Linked DNA regions of Homo sapiens: regions 1, 2 and 4 are each linked to region 3. Evidence: fine-mapped expression QTL. A gene starts in region 3. Each other region holds a variant in brackets. All regions are shown on one strand. Distances are between the middles of the regions. Region 1 overlaps ADCK1 (aarF domain containing kinase 1). Region 2 overlaps ADCK1 (aarF domain containing kinase 1). Region 3 holds the start of ADCK1 (aarF domain containing kinase 1). Region 4 overlaps ADCK1 (aarF domain containing kinase 1).

Evidence for each region.
Region 1: its variant is fine-mapped to the expression of ADCK1 in tibial nerve (GTEx, PIP 0.98).
Region 2: its variant is fine-mapped to the expression of ADCK1 in cerebellar hemisphere (GTEx, PIP above 0.99). The same link has a PIP of 0.9 or more in breast and spinal cord.
Region 4: its variant is fine-mapped to the expression of ADCK1 in whole blood (INTERVAL, PIP above 0.99).

Annotation. Positions count from the first base shown.
Region 1 is chr14:77,896,940-77,901,977 of GRCh38, reverse strand. It overlaps ADCK1 (aarF domain containing kinase 1), which reads right to left. Exons shown (of 11, transcript NM_020421.4): 6 at 2,720-2,878. Among named protein-coding and RNA genes, the nearest start is that of ADCK1, 99 kb to the right of the region's middle. The variant G/A (reference allele first, on the strand shown) is at 2,048.
Region 2 is chr14:77,906,235-77,911,272 of GRCh38, reverse strand. ADCK1 (aarF domain containing kinase 1) reads right to left here. Exons shown (of 11, transcript NM_020421.4): 7 at 3,354-3,470. Among named protein-coding and RNA genes, the nearest start is that of ADCK1, 110 kb to the right of the region's middle. The variant C/T (reference allele first, on the strand shown) is at 2,833.
Region 3 is chr14:77,797,507-77,802,544 of GRCh38, reverse strand. ADCK1 (aarF domain containing kinase 1) reads right to left here and starts at 2,436. Exons shown (of 11, transcript NM_020421.4): 1 at 2,375-2,436. RefSeq lists enhancers at 1-439, 1,821-1,900, 1,911-1,960, 2,034-2,572, 2,573-3,111 and a silencer at 2,151-2,510.
Region 4 is chr14:77,842,163-77,847,200 of GRCh38, reverse strand. All of the region lies in intron 3 of ADCK1 (aarF domain containing kinase 1), which reads right to left. Among named protein-coding and RNA genes, the nearest start is that of ADCK1, 45 kb to the right of the region's middle. The variant G/A (reference allele first, on the strand shown) is at 2,885.

The sequences.
Region 1 (5,038 bases), 99 kb before region 3:
CACATGGAGCTCCTGAGGGCTTGGTGACCCCTCTCGTGCATTCTCCAGGCCTGGTAAAGAAGAGGGAAGGGTGATCCATCCTAGAGTTGGAAGCTAAGCTCAGTGTAGACAACCAGAAGAGCCCTCCAAGCCCTGCACTGTTGGGATAAAGGGGGTAACCCTGTTTTAATAGGCATACACCTCAGGAAGGACAAATGTGTTGGAAGAACAGTGGTGTAGCATACATCTCTCTCCCCAGTTCCTGTGTGCTCTGAGAGAACACCAGGATGGTCCTTAAAGACCAGCTCCGGCCGGCCGCGGTGGCTCACGCCTATAATCCCAGCACTTTGGGAGGCCGAGGCAGGCGGATCATTTGAGGTCAGGAGTTTGAGACCAGCCTGGCCAAAATGGCAAAACCGTGTCTCTACTAAAAATACAAAAATTAGCCAGGTGTGGTGGCACACACCTGTAGTCCTAGCTACTCAGGAGGCTGAGGCAGGAGAATCGCCTGAACCCGGGAGGTGGAGGTTGCAGTGAGCAGAGATTGCACCACTACGCACCAGCCTGGGTGACAGAGTGAGACTCTGACTCAGAAAAATCATAATAATAAAATAATTAATTAAAAAAAAAAAAAAAGGACCAGCTCCAGGGCCAGGAGCAGTGGCTCACACCTGTAATCTCAGCACTTTGGGAGGCCAAAGTGGGCAAATCATTTGAGGTCGGGAGTTCAAGACTAGCCTGACAACATGGTGAAACCCCATCTCTACTAAAAAAAAAAATACAAATATTAGTAAGGCATGGTGGCACATGCCTATGATCCCAGCTACTTGGGAGACTGAGACAGGAGAATTACTTGAACCCAGGAGGCGGAGACTGCAGTGAGCTGAGATCGCGCCACTGCACTCCAGTCTGGGCAACAGAGCGAGACTCTGTCTCAAAAAAAAAAAAAAAAAGAACACCAACTCTAGTGCCAACTTCTCAGCAGAGCCTGCCCTGACCCAGTAGGCCATGGGAGTCCCTACTTCTGAATCCTCAGAGCATGTAGAAGCCGTACTTCTCATGGGGCACTGACAGCTGCGACTTCATATTATCTGATATTGTTTCCCACATTAAGTGTCTCTTATTACATAGAACAGTTCTGCTATAATACTTGTTTTGAAAACACAAATTTGTTCCAATGCAATTGATATGTTAGGGAATAGTTTGATCATAATGCAAATTTTGGATGTGCTTATGTGTACTATCATCTGCGAGAAACACTGTGAATGCAGAAAGCTGCATCCAGCAGAGCCGTGCCACATTGGAATACACAAAACAAACACACCTCGACATCGCTGCGAGTCGGTGAGTCACCCACATCTGGCCTTACAACTTTCTGTCCCATTTCTTTTTTGTTGTTGTTGTTGTTCCTTGAGACGCAGTCTCGCTCTGTTGCCCAGGCTGCAATGCAATGGCATGATCTCAGCTCACTACAACGTCTGCCTCCTGGGTCCAAGCGATTCTCCTGTCTCAGCCTCCCGAGTAGCTGAGATTACAGGAGTGCACCACCATGCCCAGCTACTTTTTGTATTTTTAGTAGAGACAGGGTTTCACCATGTTGGCCAGGCTGGTCTTGAACTCCTTCCCTCAAGTGATCTGCCCACCTCCGCCTCCCAAAGAACTGCGATTACTGCCATCAGCCACCATGCCCAGCCTCCGTCCCATTTCAAAGGACTCCTCCCACCACCCCACAAAACTAACAAGCAGCAACCCTTCTGATGCCCACTTCCACAGCAGGCTCAAGGTAAAGTGCCATGTGTATTGTGGTCTTATGTATTTCTTAGCCATTTAACATGTGTAAAACTATGCTACTGGTTTTTATTCATTCCTATCTTCTTTTCTTTCCTATATTACTGTATTACTGATGAATTTTCTTTTTTTTTTTTTTTGAGACGGAGTTTCACTCTTGTTGCCCAGACCTGAATGCAGTGGCGTGATCTCAGCTCACTGCAATCTCCACCTCCCGGGTTCAAGTGATTCTCTTGCTTCAGCCTCCCAAACAGCTGAGATTACAGGCACATGCCACCAC[G/A]CCAGGCTAATTTTTATATTTTTAGTAGAGACGAGGTTTCACCATGTTGGCCAGGCTGGTCTCGAACTCCTGACCTCAGGTGATCCACCTGCCTCAGCCTCCCAAAGTGCTGGGATTACAGGTGTGAGCCACTGTGCCCAGCCACTGATGAATTTTTTTGAGTGTTGTGCCCCTAACTCTATTTTCCCCATAAGCTCTGTGGTTTCTCTTATGTGATTTTCCATAACTGCAGTATTTCTAGGGACACATATGTTTTGTTACAGAAGAACCAACTGTATGAGCCAAGGTAAAACACATGTGTTTAAAACAGTCCCAGCGTACAGTAGTGTTAGCTATCAGCATCGCCATCATCATCACCATCCCATGCCTCACAGAGGCAGAGACCACGGCATATAGGTTCTTGGCTAAGGCTCAGTGTCTTGTAGTTGTCGATTATTCAATAAACATCTGTTTAATTGACTAATGGGTCAACAATCACACTTGATATTTCTTTGCAAATTGCCTTCAAGTGATTTAATGCACATCACCAGTGATGTCATTCATCCTCAGTAAGAGGACTCAGGAAGAAGATGTCCCAATTATGTCCTGAAAGGGATGCTCAAGGCAGGGACCCACATACCGCTACACTCTTCCACCAGACCACCATACCCTGCATTGCATCGTCCCACCTACCTTCAAGAAGTCAAAATGCCTGAGCATCTGGGACACCTTCTCAGCATTCCTCCCTTCATTGAGGAAATCCAGCTCCAAAGGCAGGTTCTTCTTGGCTTCATCCACAAGCCACATAAACTCAAACTCTGGGAACAGCTGCTTCACAGCCAGAACGAGCACCTGAAATCCAACAAGCACCCCAGTCATTTGGCCCACAGCATATACCAAGGGACATTCCCTACCTTCCTGCCTGGTTCTCCCCTAGAGTAAGGGAAACTGCTCCCCTGGGGCCCATCCCTCCTCTGAATTCCAGGAGGGAAACATAGTAGGCTCCTGCTCTCCCATAAGCTTGGTACTCTGCACCAAGTCCAAGATGATGATAGCCCAACAGCCAGCATCGGTAACCATGACTACCACTTGCTGAGGGTTCCCCTCGTGCCCAGCACTAACTAAGCACTTATTTTTTATTTTATTTTATTTTTTAAGTTCTGGGATATGTGTGTAGGATGTGCAGGCTTGTTTCATAGGTAAACGTGTGTCATGGTGGTTTACTGCACCTATCAACCCATCACCTAGGTATTAAGCCTGGCATGCATTAGCTCTTTTTCCTAATGCTCTCCCCCACCCCCCAACCGTCGCCCAACAGGCCCCAGGTGTGTTGTTCCCCTCCCTGTGTCCATGTGTTCTCATTGTTCAGTTCCCACTTATAAGTGAGAACAAGCGGTCTTTGGGTTTTTTTGTTCCTGCATTAGTTTGCTGAGGATAATGGCTCCCAGCTTCATCCATGACCCTGCAAAGGACATGATCTCATTCCTTTTTATGGTTGCATAGTATTCCATGGTGTATATCTACCACATTTTCTTTATCCAGTCTCCCATTGATGGGCATTTGGGTTGATTCCACATCTTTGCTACTGCGAATAGTAAACTAAGCACTTTACTTACTACTAAACTTAATCCTTGCAACAACTCTGGGAGGCACACAGATACACATCTTATCATCCCTTTTCTGTTGTTTAGACAAGATGTCACTCTGTAGCCCAGACTGGAATGCAGTGGCGTGATCAATCACAGTTCACTGCAACCTTGACCTCCAAGGCTCAAGTGATCCTCCCACCTCAGCCTCCTGAGTGGCTGGGATTACAGATATGCATCACCATGCCCAGCTAATTTTTTTAATTTTTTTGTAGAGACAGAGTCTCACTGTGTTGCCCAGGTTGGTCTCAAGCTCCTGTCCTCAAGCAGTCCTCCTGCCTCAGCCTACCAAAGTGCTATCCCATTTTATAGATGAGGAATTTGAGGCTCTGAGGGGTTATATGATTTTCAAAAAATCTGCCCAGCAAGGAAGTACCGAGCTAGAATTCCCCCTGGGAATTCCACAGCCAACTCTACAGCCCTTGCTCTGAAACACTTAGCTCAACTGCTGCTGTGGCTGCTCCCCGATCTGTTCTGGTCTGTTCACAAAGCACTGGGAGGGTGCTGCAAATGTAACTGTCATTACTTTATTTCTTAAGTTGAATGTTTGGTGCTTGAACATTTATAATACTATTTTCTATACTTTCTGTACGTCTAAAATGTTTCATAATAAAAAACTAAATTGGAATAAGAAAACAAAGCTGGATAAGACGAGAGGAGACAGAGAGAAGGAATTTGACCACTTGGATGAAAAGCTTTGATTTTTGGCAATTTGACTCCACTGTGGATTCTTGAGTGATGACATGTTAAGAGGGGGTTTTAGAAGATGTATCTGGCATTCAGGGGTCAGTTTAATGATGTGAAATTAAAGAAGAGCCCAGTGATCTGTGCACAGCATACCACAGCCCCTGCCATGAGCAGAGACACAATCCTAAGGCTGCCCCACCACCAGGGCCCTGGATTTGAGATGGGTGCCCAAGTTCCTGGATGATGGCTCTGTAGTGGGTGAGCAAGGGTGATACCAGGGACATAGGAGGTGTTCCAGAATTCTGGGAGGGAAACAGAAGGGCCCTGACCTCCCATAAGCTCTCCTGCTGGCATTCGAAGCCAGGCCTGGGGAGAACATTGACTGATTGACCCAGTAATTCTTAGTATAAATGACAGTCCGAGTTATCTGAGAACAACCATCTCTAACCCTGGCTATAGCAGATGGCAATAAGAACTAACAAGCTGTGGGCCTGTTGGTACCAAAAGACCTTCCCCTTCCCATCTTTCCAGAAAGACTTACTGAGCCCCAGATAAAAGCCTTGTCTCATGCTTCTTTTTGCCCTGTTCTATGATATTTTGCCCAATGCTGTGTTGGCAAAAGAAATCAATCTAAAGCCAGACTATTAACTACAAGGCATTTACAGCTTTGTTTTCAAGC
Region 2 (5,038 bases), 110 kb before region 3:
ACTTTGGAGTCATGCAGACCTGAGTTCAAACCCTGGTTCTACCCCTGCTAGCTGTGTGATACGGGGCAAGTTGTTTAACCTCTCTGAGCATTTGCTTTCTCATCTGTAAATAGGGTTAATAATATATACTGTATAGGAGAGCTGTAATGAGTAGAGATTATGTGTGTCATATGCCTGGCACATATTAGTTGCTTATAATTATTATTAGTTATTGTTTTTCCCCAAATAACTCTGATATCAGCTTGCCCCATTCTGCATGTCCACAAGAAAACAACCAACACTCTCCCCTAGGCCTGCCTGGTAGAGGCCAATCTAGGGTGTGAGGCTGGTTTGTTTACCCATTCACTAATTTAAGAATGTCTACCAAGGATCTGCTCTGCACAGACCACTGGCTTTATCTACAAGGTATCAAAAGAGCGGGGAGGCAGAAGCAGATGAGACCAGTCCTCAGAGGGTACGCCCTGCCCAGCTCCTACTGCCCAGCTCCAGCCTAGCTGCCCCCTCCGGCCAGGCACAGCACTCAGCCATAAGCAAACAACTACCCAGAGCGCACCTTTCTGTGTTTGCATTTGTTTGGAAAATCAACGTTGCCTCTGATTAAACACCATTACGGCTCTGGGCTCACTGGATCCAAAGAGATTAATGGACTTGAGGGTGTTGCTGGAATGAAAATGCCTCCACAGCTGGTAGTAAGTAAATGCCAGGAACCTGGCGGGGATGAGGCCTCTGGGATATTTCCTGATCAGCAGGCGACAGACCCTGTTTCCCTTTAAGGCCGTTCAGGAAAGGCCAGAGGTGGCCTCCCATCCCATCGAATCCCTTCGCCACTGGAACCAAAGACTGTATTCTGCTTGAACACCTCCCATGTACCACCCTAGAAGCCACCAGTGAAGGCAGCAGAGTCAGAAGCCCTGACTTGTGTTACTGGCCAAGTGACCTCAGGAAAGACATTTGCTCCCTCTCAGAACTTTTCACCCCATCTGTAAAATAGAAGGATGAACTCTTTTTCTCATCCCTTTCCCTCCAAGCAGCAGAACTCTTCCAGAAAAGTCCAATAGGCAGCTCACGCATTGGCAAAGCTGCCCTGGGTAAAACAGAGTGGTATCTGTTTCAGTGTAGCCTGCCCATATCCCACACACCCCAAGGCCCTTGAATGGGTTATTGAAGCACTGTTCCCTAAGTCAGGGGACAACAGCTTTCCTAGAAGGCCTGAGCCAGCCACAGAGAAACGTTCCCACCATGCTCCTGGCAGCAGCTCTGTGCACTTTGATGCGGCCCCTCCTTTGTGGCCTAACAGGAAGAGTGAAATCAGGGAGACTCAGGTCTCAATCCCACCTCTGCTAAGCTGTGTGACCTTCTCTCTCTGAGACTCTGATTCTTTGTCTGCAAAATGGAGACAATGAGACCACCCTCATAAGTTTATTATGGAGAAAAGGGCCTGGCACAGGGAAGTTAGGCATGCAATAAATGCTAATGGTAAAAGGAGAAAGAAAGAACAGAGCCCAAAGATAATATAAGGAAATCAACAACCACCACCCAGCTACTCTTCTGGAATGCTAGCCACACACCAGGCACTGTGCTTAGCACTGTTTGCACCCTAACTCACATAGTCTTCACAGCCCCTCTTAGAGGCAGATACTGACCCCATTTACAGCAGTCACATGGCCACCAGGAGGCCTGTGCAACCACCACACTCCCCTGCCACCCCCCTGGGCTCATCTGCTGAGCCAAGGTATGGCTTTCTCCTGTGGGCCAACTCCCCATTGGGACCACATGCTCACGCTCATCTTCATGCACTGCCTGTGGACATGGGGAGTGGAATAGAAAAGAGCATTCACAGCCAGGCGCGGTGGCTCACGCCTGTAATCCCAGCACTTTGGGAGATCGAGGCAGGCGGATCACCCGAGGTCAGGAGTTCAAGACCAGCCTGACCAATATGGAGAAACCCTGTCTCTACTAAAAATACAAAATTAGCCAGGCATGGTAGCGCATGCCTGTAATCCCAGCTACTTGGGAGGCTGAGGCAGGAGAATCACTTGAACCCAGGAGGCGGAGGTTGCAGTGAGCCAAGATTGCGCCATTGCACTCCAGCCTAGGCAACAAGAGCAAAACTCCGTCTCAGGGAAAAAAAAAAAAAAAAAAAAAGCATTTACCTCCACTGGGCGTGGCCCACTTCCTTCCTTCCATCCCAGAGGGCAGAACATGTTGCTGCACTCCCCAAAACCCTGAAGTGACTCCACAGTGCCTCAAGGTCACACCCAAGACCATTACTTTATCTCCCCACACACCCCAAGGAATCCTGCCCCAGCCCTGCCAAACTTCACCCATTCCCTTCCCCTTCTTGCAAAGCCACTCCCTGGAAAACTCCTACTCATCCTGCTGGGGACACCAACCTGTGGCAGGCCTCAGTGCCTCTTCCTCACTCTCCCTGGGGTTCTCCTCACACCCTCTCGCTGCCTGAGATACAGCAAGGATTTAGATGTGTGTCTGACTCTGATGCTAAGCTCTGGGGACTAGGTCTGGTCCCCCTGCGAGCCCCCATACCTAGCATATAGCAGACACTATTAAAATGATCAATGTTGAGCCTGGCCACGTGGCTCACACCTGTAATGCCAGCACTTTGAGAGGCCAAAGTGGGAGGACTGCTTGAGCCCAGGAGTTCCAGATTACAGTGAACTATGATTGTGCCACTGCACGCCAGTCTAGGCAACAGAGCAAGACCCCATCTCTAAAAACATAAAAATGAAATTATGAATGTTGTTGAAAAAGTACAACTCCACCCATTCCTGTGGGACCCTGTGCAACCAAGAAGCAGAAAGTGAGGGACAGGTC[C/T]TACCCACTGGCCAGTATTCCCTGGGACAAGGGGGATGGGAGGGGGGACACACAAAGCCCACCTCTTTTTTCCTGCTCTAGGAGGCTGATGCAGTTGGTTGCTGCTGTCCCCTTTTTGCCTGATCCCTTGAGATCTGGGAAGTGGGAAGGAGAGAGAAGGGCAGGAAGAGGGAAGAGACAACAGACAGGCCCCACAGAGCCAAAAGGATTAAGTCCCACTGATTTTGCATCATTGTTCTCTGTGGCCGCTTAGCTTTGTGGGGCTCAGATGGTACAAAGGAAAAGCAGGTAATGGCAGAAGGGGTTCAGCATGTCCCTGCAGGCCGCTGTGTGCACAGGGCTGGCCTAAATGACCTGAAAGAATCTTTCTTGCTCAAAGTTTATAATTCTCCAGACAATGGGCCCTATTAAAGACAAGGGGGCCAGACTCTGAGGCCTCACCTGGACACACAGGCACTTCCTGGGCAGCCTTGACCAAGCCCACGTTCCCCGGCACAGCAGCCCTGAGCTCTTGACCTCACCTCATTGACGTCGATCTTGTTCCTCTCCATGTAGTCTCTGTCATTGACCTGCCCGCCATCCACAAACTCCATCAGGAGGACCCGCTCCGTGGACAGGTCCCAGTGGATTCGGGGGACCTGGGATAGGAAGGGACAGGTCAGATGGTCTGGGGAAGCTGGGAATCGGGCAAGGATGACAATGTGGCACAGCGAGCCAGACAGCAACAGAGGCTCCTCCCAGAGCAAGGGAGAAGAGGCCCAGGAGGGACCTCAGCGGTGACAGTGGGGATGGGACAGCCAGGCCAAGAGGGAGGCTGGCTACTCCACCTCTGCTCAGCAGGCCTCCGCCCACTCCTTTAGATACCGGCTTTGCCAACTCTCCTCAGTGCCTTCTAATGCTGTTAAGAGCCAAAACTAAAGTTGGGACTTGGGAGGAAAATGTTGGAACACCTCACACCTGGGCATTGCTGTTAAGGATATTTCCTCTCCCCATCCCGCCACCAGGCCTACTTCGGACTCCTCCCTCTGCCTCCAATATTTCACCCAGGTAATGGGTGCATTGTGTGTATTGAGCAAATGACTGAGTTTTAACCAGATGATAAATTTTGTTTCTCATGCCTGTTTCCTGTAGGAAAACACGTTTCCTGGGGCAGACAACATTGGATATTAACCCAACATCTATTCCCAACCCTCCTCTTCCCTAGAGATGAAAAAAACTAAATACTGGGGCCAGGCGGAGTGGCTCACACCTATAATCCCAGCACTTTGGGAGGCTGGGGCAGGTGGATTGCTTGAGCTCAGAAGTTCAAGACCAGCCTGGGCAACGTGGCGAAACCCTGTCTCTACAGTAAATACAAAAATTAGCCAGGCATAGTGGTGCGTGCCTGTGATCCCAGCTTGGGAGGCTAAGGTGGGAGGATCGCTGTCAAAGCCAGTGTGCTGTGACCTTATACATCACACCACTGCACTCCAGCCTGGGCAACAGAGCAAGATCCTGTCTGAAAACAAACAAACAAATAAAAAACCTAAATACTTTCCTTGCCTGCTTTATAGTAGGTATGGCCATGTGACATAGTTCTGACTTATGAACAAAAATGGAAACCTGCTAGGGGATTCTGGGAAGGTTTTTATTTCCTTGATTTAAAAAAAAGGGGGTATTTGCATAGTGCTACTCTTCTTCCACTTCTCTTCTTGCCTCGAAAGTGAATGTGAATGTGACTGTTGGTGCTGTAGCAGCCATCTTGCAACAATGAGGAAAAATAAAAAAATTTAAAAATCTGAGAAGCCAGCTCTGGTACTGTTAAACCACCAAAACCATATGTCAGTAGGCAACCACTGCAAACCTTCTTGCTATGTGAAGACAACAAATTCTTTTGTTTAAGGCACTCTAAATGAGGCTTTCAGTTGCCTACAGACAAATGCATTACTAACATACACTCTCCAACCCTCTCTGACTCTCATAACACTCAAAAACCAAAAAGAGAACAGATTTCTCCAGGAGCGGGCAAGAGACTAGAATGCAACCAGGCTGCCATGTGAGCAAGGGACACCCACCAGTACCCCCACAGCCAGGAGGGAGGGGTTACTGGGCTTCCAGCATGCCGAGTTTCCCCCAAATTGTGAGGAGTTTATTTCCTCTTACAAATAAAGAAACATGGGCAGCTTTTTCAAATGTTTTGGAGAGTAAGATTTTCCTTTACCCTGAC
Region 3 (5,038 bases):
CGAGAGGCAGAGGCTGCAGTGAGCCAAGATCGTGCCACTGCACTCCAGCCTGGGCGACAGAGCAACACTCTGTCTCAAAAAATAAAAAAAGGAATCCCTGACTGATGCCAAGGTCCCAGAATAGACAACAAAAATAATTCTCACCCAGGCAAGGAATAGAAATCCTCCATTCAGTCCATCCTAGGAAAGGCAGACTGAGGGAGAATAGGGCAAAGCCAGATGCAAAGAGCAAGCAGCAGGTAAGAGAAGAGAGTGAGCTTCCAACGGGAGAGCTACAGTACCAAGCACTTATTAGCTCATTAACTCACACAACCAGATTCCGAGGTGCATGCTATTAGAGCTTCAATCTATGGATAAGGAAGTGGTGTTTTAGAAAAGGTAGAAAACTTGGCCAAGGAGCTGGTAAGTGATGGAGGCAGAACTTGAATCCATGTATGACTGCTCCCACCAAGAGAGCAAAAAGTGCACAAGAACAAGCAGCTTGCTGGGCCCTGAAATAGGCCACTGGAGTCCCTGCAACATGGAAACCTTAACCCAGGAGGCATATTTAGTGAGTTACCCTGGTGAAGAAATGGATGGCTGACCCAACTAAATTTTTTTTTTTTAGACGGAGTCTTGCTCAGTCGCCCAGGCTGGAGTGCAGTGACACGATCTCGGCTCACTGCAGCCTCCGTCTCCCGGGTTCAAGCTGTTCTCCTCCTCAGCCTCCCAAGTAGCTGGGACTACAGGCACACACCACTACGCCCAGGTAATTTTTTTGTATTTTTGGTAGAGATGGGGTTTCACCATGTTGGCCAGGCTGGCATTGAACGCCTGACCTCAAGTGATTCGCCCACCTCAGCCTCCCAAAGTGCTGGGATTACAGGTGTGAGCCACCGCACCCGGCCCCAACTAATATTCTTACAGGTCCTTTGTCTGACAAGAAAATGACTGCATAGCAGAAAGTAAGAATATGCACACTCTTCTAGTACAGATCAAATCGCACATCCCTGAGGCCAGTTGAGAAATGGCCAAGCAAAGAATGACCCAATAAGGTAGAATATGATGTAACCAGGAAAAATGACAAGTATAGACTACATTAAAATCTGTATATAAATTAATATGGAGGGAGTTAACAGTGTACAAAGTAATATGCACATATTTACAATCACCAAAAAAGTAAAACTGGCAAATAAAGACAGAAAGACCCGTAACCAGGTGTGAAGAGATAGTGCTTTAAGTTCACAGGATTTTTTTTCCTATAAAGCAGTGGTACTCAACGTATGGTCCCCAGACCAACAGCAACTGCATCACTTGGGTGCATGTTAGAAACGCCAATTCTTGGTCCTCATACCAGACTTACAGAATCAGAAACTTTGGGGATGGGGTCCAGTACTGTGTGTTGTTACTAGCTCTCCAGGTGACTCTGGTGCATGCTAAAGTTTGAGAACCACTGTAGTAAGAAAATTATTTTATTTATTTTCCTTTTTTTCTTTTAATACAGACGGGAGTCTCACTATGTTGCCCAGCCTGGTGTTGAACTCCTGCCCTCAAGCAATCCTCCCATCTTGGCCTCCCAAAGTGCTGGGATTACAGGCATCAGCCACCACATCCAGCCCCAAGAAAATTATTAAATAAAACATATGAAGCCACAGATAAAGTCTAATTCACTTCAACTCTGCAAATATTTCTTGAGCACCTACTAAGTGCCAAGTATCATGGAGGTAAACAATAAATACTTGTTGAATGACTTTCTTGTTAGTAGAAAGTAAATGCCACTTAACCCTGGGAGAGGGCTGTTCTAGGTGTCTTATCTAAAGGTTGCTCTCCACACACACTGGCTGCTGTTAGCACATATCTACTGTGTGATCTGGAAGCCCAGGGCCCTGCAAGATGCTGGAGATAAGCAGCGGTCTGGGGCACGTTCGCAAGACCGGGTGGAGGGCCAGGATATGGGCATCGCCCCCTGCTCTTGCCCAGACCACGCTCCAGCTCCAGCTGCTTCTGCCTCGGAACTCACAGGGCCACCAGGGGGTGAAGGCGTCTGGGTGAGCCACCTCCGGCCCTCCTCCAGCTCTGCCCACTCGGGTGCCTGCAAGACTGTGCCACTGAAGTGGACAGGTCACATGAAAGCCCACTGGTGTGCCAAACTGGAGAAGTCACTGCAGGGGGGCGGGGCAATGCGAGTCACCCGAGCCACGTGGCCGCGCGCCGGGCCCAGGTGACAAGGTCATGGGGCTGTCCCTCCCGGCGCCCAGGGCGGCTGCACAACCGGAGCAGAGGCCGACTCCCGGCGTGTCCATGCCGGTTCCCTCGCGCTCCAGGCGCGGTGCGGCCCTGCCAGGCTGGTCGGCCCGAGCTCTGCGCCGGCCTCCGGCGAGCTGCCCCTACTCACCCCGAGGGAAGCAGAGCCGCGGCGCCCGGCTTCCGGCCGCAACCCGGTAGCGGGGAATTAGCTGGGAACCGTGCGGGGACAGCCACCTGACTGCGCTTAGTGAAGCCGAGGCGCGCGCGGCCTGCCGGGACTTGTAGTTCCTGGTTCCCCACGCCGCGATCCCGCGGGCAGTACTGTGGAGGCACAGGGGTCTCGGGCTTACTCCGTCAGGTGGCCTTGTTGCTTTGCCAGGGCGACGGACTTGGAATATTACTGAAATATTTTCTTCAAGACATTCTAACTACGTCCCAGGTTCGTGTTTAATGAAAGATGAAGTGGATTTGTAGATTTTTTTTTTTTGAGACTGAGTCTCGCTCTGTCGCCCAAGCAGTACAGCTAATTTTTGTATTTTTTTTAGAGATGGGGTTTCACCATGTTGGCCAAGCCGGTCTCAAACTCCTGACCTCAAATGATCCGCCCGCCCAAAGTGCTGGGATTACAAGAGTGAGCCACTGCGCCCGACCTCGTAGATTTTATTCATTCATTCATTCATTCATTCATTCATTTTGAGACAGAGTCTCACTCTGTCGCCCAAGCTGGAGTGCAGTGGCCCATCTCGCCTCACTGCAACCTCCGCCTCCCGGGTTCAAGTGATTCTCCTGCCTCAGCCTCCTGAGTAGCTGGGATTACAGGAGTGTGCTACCACGCCCTGCTAATTTTTTGTATTTTTAGGAGTGACGGGGTTTCGCCATTTTGCCCAGGCTGGTCTTGAACTCCTGAACTCAGGCAATCCACCCGCCTTGACTTCCCAAAGTGCTGGGATTACAAGCCTGAGCCACCTCACCGGGCCATAGATTTTAAATAAGATATTGGAACTAGTAGGCGAAGAAGAAATTTACTGACAATTGATGTATGCTGGCGGGGCGGTGGCTCACGCCTGTAATCCCAGCAGGCCAAGGCTAGCAGATCACCTGAGGTCGGGAGTTTGAGACCAACCTGACCAACATGGAGAAACCCCGTCCCTACTAATAATAGCAAAAATTAGCCAGGCCTAGTGGTGCATGCCTGTAATCCCAGCTACTCAGGAGGCTGAGGCACTAGAAACCCGGGAGGCAGAAGTTGCGGTGAGCCGAGGTCACGCCATTGCACTCCAGCCTAGGCAACAACAGCGAAACTCCGTCTCAAAAATAATAATAATAATGCTGGCTGGGCAGGACGCAGTAGCTCACACCTGTAATCCCAGCACTTTGGGAGGCTGAGGCGGGCAGATCACCTGAGGCTAGGGGTTGGAGACCAGCCAGGCCGACATAGTGAAACCCCATTTCTACTAAAAATAGAAAAATTAAGCCGGGTGCGGTGGCTCATTCCTGTAATCCCAGCACCTTGGGAGGCCAAGGTGGGCGGACCACTTGAGGCCGGGAATTTGAGACCAGCCTGGCCAACATAGTGAAATCTGTCTCTGCTAAAAATACAAAAATTAGCCTGGTGTGGTGGTGCACGTCTGGAATTTCAGCTACTCAGGAAGCTGAGGCAGGAGAATCGCTTGAACCCGGGAGGCGGAGGTTGCAGTGAGCTGAGATCACGCCACTGCACTCCAGCCTAGGCAACAGAGTGAGACTCTGTCTCCAAAAAGAAAAAAAAGAAAAAGAAAAATTAGCCCAGCATAGTGGCGGGCACCTGTTATCCCAACTACTCGGGAGGCTGAGGTGGGAGAATTGCTTGAACCCAGGAGGTGGAGGTTGCAGTGAGCTGAGATTGGGCCACTGCACTCCAGCCTGGGCAACAGAGCAAGACTCGTCTCAAAATAAATAAATAAATAAATATAATATGCTAGCTAATCTTAGTTATCTTTGGCCCTTATTCATTCATTCACTGATCTCCATTATCAAATGTTGACTTATAAGATGCACTTTGAAGACATGTATCAAAAACATTTCTCTTTTTTTTTTTGAGACAGGGTCTGGCTGTGTTGCCCAAGCTGGAGTGTAGAGGCTCCATCACTGTAGCCTCAACTTCCTGTCCTCAAGGTACCCTCCTGCCTCAGTCTGTGGAGTAGCTGGGACTACAAGCACATACTGCCACGCCTGGCTAAATTTTTTAAATTTTTTCTCAAGAAAAGCTGGGGGGTGTGGTCTCACTATATTGCCCAGGCTGGTCTCGAATTTCTGTGCTAAGCCATCCTCTGGCCTTGGCCTCCCAAAGTGCTGGGATTACAGGTGTGAGCCACCACGCCAGGCCTCAGACGTTTGTTTATTCTATAAACATCTCTTGAGCTATTTTTTTCATGGGGGAATTAATCTATCAGTCCAATGCAGTTCCAATCAAATTTCCAACATAATTTTTTCTGGACCTTCACAAACTAATCAAAAGTGTGTATGAAAAAACAAAGGGCAGCGCAGTGGCTCGTGCCTGTAATCCCAGCACGTTGGGAGGCTAAGGCAGGTGGATCAGTTGAGGTCAGGAGTTCATCACCAGCCTGGCCAACATGGTAAAACCCCATCTCTACTAAAATACAAAAATTAGCCAGGCATGGTGGTGCACACCTGTAATCCCAGCTACTCAGAAGGCTGTGGCAAGAGAATCCTTGAACCCGGGAGACAAATGTTGCAGTGAGCCAAGATCATACCACTGAATTCCAGCCTGGGTGACAGAGCGAGACTTTGTCTCAAAAAAAAAAAAAAATAC
Region 4 (5,038 bases), 45 kb before region 3:
TACCCTCCAACCACAGTTATCAGCTCTCTCCTGTGCCATCCCCTGCCCCCAGGCCCTTGCATAGCATCTCCATAATCTCACCACACCACTCTCCTTTTCACCTGCGAAAAATCCTCTCAGCCTGGACCCAAGCCTGCCTCCCTTCACCTCCTCCTAGTCCTGACTTGACCCATTCTCCGTGCCACGCCTCTCCCCTCTCACAAGTGATGTTACTGCCTTCCACAATCCCAGGATGAAGGGCAGAGCAAGGAGTTCCTTTCACCCAGTGTGGCTCAAAATCCTCTTTTTGTCTGAGCCTCTCTTGGAGAAGATGGGGCTTCTGCCCATGCAGCAGCTCCATGGATATGATCAGCTTCTCCGCTTCGGGTCCACAGAAGAAAAAGCAGGGGAGCAACCCTAGACATGGCCAGGTTGCAACCAAACGAGTCTGGGACCCAGTGAGAGACCCAGAGCAACAGAGCTTTCCAATGTCAGGGACAATGACTTGACCGTTCCCCAGTGGGAAGGCCTCCTTCCCACCAGCCCCCACTCTGCCCTTTCTCAGCAGGGATCAGCTGGGCAGATCACTAGAGGGTCTCTGTTGGAGGATCCAGAACAGGGGTTTTTCCCAAAAACCAGTCAGGATATGGAATCACAGATGATTCACTCAATGAGAGCCACCTGCCCATCACAAGACACCCAGAAAGCCCTCCACAGTCCTGTCTTGAATCATGCAGGGGTCAGCTCAAAGCCCCATCACACCAGGCCTGGCTTCCAGGACAGTCATGGACTCCGACTGCTTCTCAAGGCTTCCCTGGGTCCCCCTCAGGGTCACCCAAAGGGAACTGTTACCCAGGGTCCTGCATGGCTGGATTAAGATGGGGAGAGGACCATAGCATAGCTTTGGGTCTAGGCTTTGACTAGGCCCTGCTTTCTAAGCCTATAGGAGAGGCAGCTGTGAGAAGACGGGGGTGGCACCAGCTGGCTATTGAAGTCCAGTCTAAGAACGAGGTTCAGGGTAGGTGGGAGAAGATACACTGGCTTAGGGGAGCAGAGATGGTCGGAAGGAGATACTATAGTGATGTTCTGGTCAGAGGAGCAACTAAGCAAAATGGCCAAGAGAGGCCCCATGTGGCAGCTGGTTCTTGGGGAACCACAGCCAAGCCTCCAGAGCTGCATCACACACCCAAACCAAAATGAACTTCTGGAGTGTGAAGTACGATAGCAAAAGCTGCCCCAGAGCCACAGGTAGTTACAGATCCAGCACCATCTCACACCTGGTTATTAGTACTGTGGGACTTTTCATTATGAAATTGCAAATTCCAGGAGCACTTCAAACCCAAATGATTCCAGAGCATACCATGGAAAAGAAAGAGAAGCAGGTATTTCTGACAGGCAACTCTGAGGGATACTGCAGAGGGAGTGAGCAGGGGATGATTTTGTGTCTGTGTCCACCAAGAATCTAGAAAGATAAAGCAATTTAAAAAGGAACATTTTGGCCAGGTGCGGTGGCTCATGCCTGTAATCCCAGCACTTTGAGAGGCCGAGGTGGGCAGATCACTTGAGGCCAGGAACTCGAGACCAACCTGGTCAACATGGTGAAACCTCATCTCTACTAAAAATACAAAAATGAGCCGGGTGTGGTGATGCATGTGCCTGTAGTCCCAGCTACTCAGGAGGCTGGGGCAGGAAAACTGTTTGAACCCGGGAGATGGAGGTTGCAAGGAGCTGAGATTGTGCCACTGCACTCCAGCCTAGGTGACAGAGCAAGACCCAGTCTCAACAAAAAGGAAGAAAAAAAAAGGAACATTTTAATTGAGCTACTATCATGGATTAAGTATTTACTATGTGTTAGGCCCTACTCTGAACCCTTTATACATGTATTTTCTCATTTATGGTAGGCATAATTATTATCCTCTCTTTTAAAGATGAAGTTAAGGCTCAGAAAGGTTAAATGGCTTGGCTAAGGCCACACAGCTTATTAGTGGCAGAGCTGGGATCTGAATCCCGGCAGTCTAACTCCAAGACCATAATGAAATACCTCTTAGAATACCAGTATAATTCAGAAGAAAAAGTTTTGAATCAAGACTCAAGGGACCTGGATTCTGGGACAATTCTGCCAATTACTGCCCCTACTTATGCAATCCTGAACAAATCATCTCAGCTTGTTGGGCCTCAGCTCATCTGTAAATTGAGAAGTTGAGCAGGGTCAGGAATAGGAAGTGAGTGCATATGCGCCTCTCCTCTGTTACTGTGCCCGTGGCACACATCAGACATCACTAATCAACCACAGCACGCACTCTGAGTCCAGGTGACGACTTGCCTATTCTCCAACCTGCACTCAGACAACCACTACTAATCAAGTGGAGTTTGCAAATGAAATGTCTTTGCTTTCCCAGAGCTAGATGTTTCTAAGGTGTCTTCTGACTCTTAAAAACCTATAACTGTTACTGGGGTTCTAAAGACAAAATTTTAATTCTAGCCCCAACTCCAAGTAGATTATTGTCTCTATGCCTCAGTCTTCCTTCTGCAAGATGGACAGTCTGTCACACCATCATCTATGTGGTCAGCTCCATTTTCTCCCCTGTCCCAATGAACTACACTCCAGGCCAACGCCCAATCTGAGTTACACAGACCGAGTCTGCTCTTGGTGGACCTGACGGGGCCGGCTCCCCACACTGCCTCTCTAAGGGAGTCCAACAGGGGGGAGAGCTAAGACCAACGCCACTGACATGATAGGATGAAGGGACACCGGTTCCTTTGCATTGAGCACTGTTTCCAGAAGGTTCCAGTCAAAATAAGAATCTTCCCTAGAGGTGGTAACATAAGAAATTATGATCAGGCCAGGCGTGGTGGCTCACATCTGTAATCCCAGCACTTTGGGAGGTCGAGGTGGTTGGAACAC[G/A]TGGTCAGGAGATCAAGATCATCCTGGCCAACATGGTGAAACCCTGTCTCTAGTAATATACAAAAATAATTCACCGGGCATGGTGGTGTGCGCTTGTAGTCCCAGCTACTTGGGAAGTTGAAGCACAAGAATTGCTTGAACCCAATTGCTTGAACCTCCAGGCAGAGGTTGCAGTAAGGGGAGATCACATCACTGCACTCCAGCCTGAGCAACAGAGTGAGACTCTGTCTCCAGAAAAAAAAAAGAAAAAAAGAAATTATGATCAGTCATTCACATCCTGGCAGGAGTTTCTTTACCTGTCTCTTTCCAGCCAGAGCAACTAACCTAGAGCAGATTTCTATGAAATGGGACAGTTTCCAAATGTAAGTTCTGTTTCAGAGAAGCCCATCCTAAAAGGAAGGTGGCAGATGGGGGTATCTGGAGAGGGCAGTTGCTAGTGGCTAAGAAAGCTTAATGAATAAAACATACAACACAGCTGCCAAGGATACTTGCATTTTAATAGAGAACAGAGTTTAAGCGAAAGGAATTACTTTCTAATGGTGGAATTACAAGCATCAATAATGATTTAGGGAAGAATTAAGCAAAGAAAGTTGTTCCAGCATCCCTGAAATCCCAACAAATGAGCTGATGTGACTGTGCAAGCCCTCAGCAAACAGCAAATGGGCTGCAAATTTAAGGGATTAATAATATTATTACTGGCAACTTGTGACTCTGCCTGCCAGTGAGCAAGCCTGCCATCACACAGACAAACCCAGATGCCCACAGGAGCCCAGGACATGTACTCTTTGGTCTGGAAAGCATCCATTTGGGAACCCAGTTGCCAGAAAAGCTGAAGAGGACCCTTCCCTCCATCTGCCCCTTAATCACACACACTGAGAAGATGCATAATTAATTTGTTCTCAACAGTTGTTCAGCGGCTAGAAGAGTGAGGGCATCTCTGGAATGGCAATTACAGTCAAGAAAAACAAGTGTTAGGCCGCGAGCAGAATGCAGCAGCCAGCCTGCTTCCCTTCCCCACCATGCTTGCTCAGGCCACAGGCCTGAATGTGGGACAGGAGTCTTTTTCATTTCCTCAAAGCCTGGGGCTCTTGGGGGCTGGTGGGAAAGAATAGAAAACAAAACTCTGGCTAGACAAGGTTACTCACGCCTGTGATCCCAGCATTTTGAGATTCTGAGATGGGAGAATCACTTGAAGCCAGGAGTTTGAGACCAGCCTGGGCAACTTAGTAAGACCCCATGTCTACAAAAAAAATTTTTTAATTAGTTAGGAGTAGTGGCACACACCTGTGATCCCAGCTACTCAGGAGGCTGAGGCAGGAGAATCACTTGAACCCAGGAGGTGGAGGATGCAGTGAGCCATGTTTCAGCCACAGCATTCCAGCCTGGATGACAGAAAAAGACCTAGTCTTAAAAAAAAAAAAAAAGAAAGAAAGAAAAGAAAAGAAAAGAAAAAGAAAAAATACCCTCGACCAGGCACAATGGCTCACACCTGTAAACCCAGCACTTTGGGAGGCCAAGGCAGGTGGATCACTTGAGGTCAGCAGTTCAAGACAAGCCTGGCCAACATGGTGAAACCTGTCTCTACTAAAAATACAAAAATTAGCTGGGCGTGGTGGTGCATGCCTGTAATCCCAGCTGCTCTGGAGGCTGAGGCAGGAGATTTGCTTGAACCCAGGAGACGGAGATTGCAAGATTGTGCCACTGCACTCCAGCCTGGGTGACAGAGTGAGACTCCATCACAAACAAACAAAAAAAAATAGAAAGGAAGGAAGGGAGGAAGGGAAGGAGGGAGGGAGGAAATGAAGGAAGGAAGGAAGGAAGGAAGGAAGGAAGGAAGGAAGGAAGGAAGGAAGGAAGGAAGGAAGGAAAAAAAAATACCCTGAAAGATACAGGGAAGAAGGCCTCACTCTAACCTCAGAGAGACAGCTAAAATAGGCACAAAGCTCAGGGACAATGTGAAGACCAACAGGCAGCACATTTGGCGGACAAGTGAACACACATAGAAATTAGATGAAATTAAAGAACTCCTGTTAATATCATTAGCTGAGATAATCACATGATAACTTAGAAAAATATCAGTTTTTAGAGATGCACACTGAAATTACAGGTGACATGCCATGATTTCTATAATTTGCTTAAATTTGTCAGCAAAAA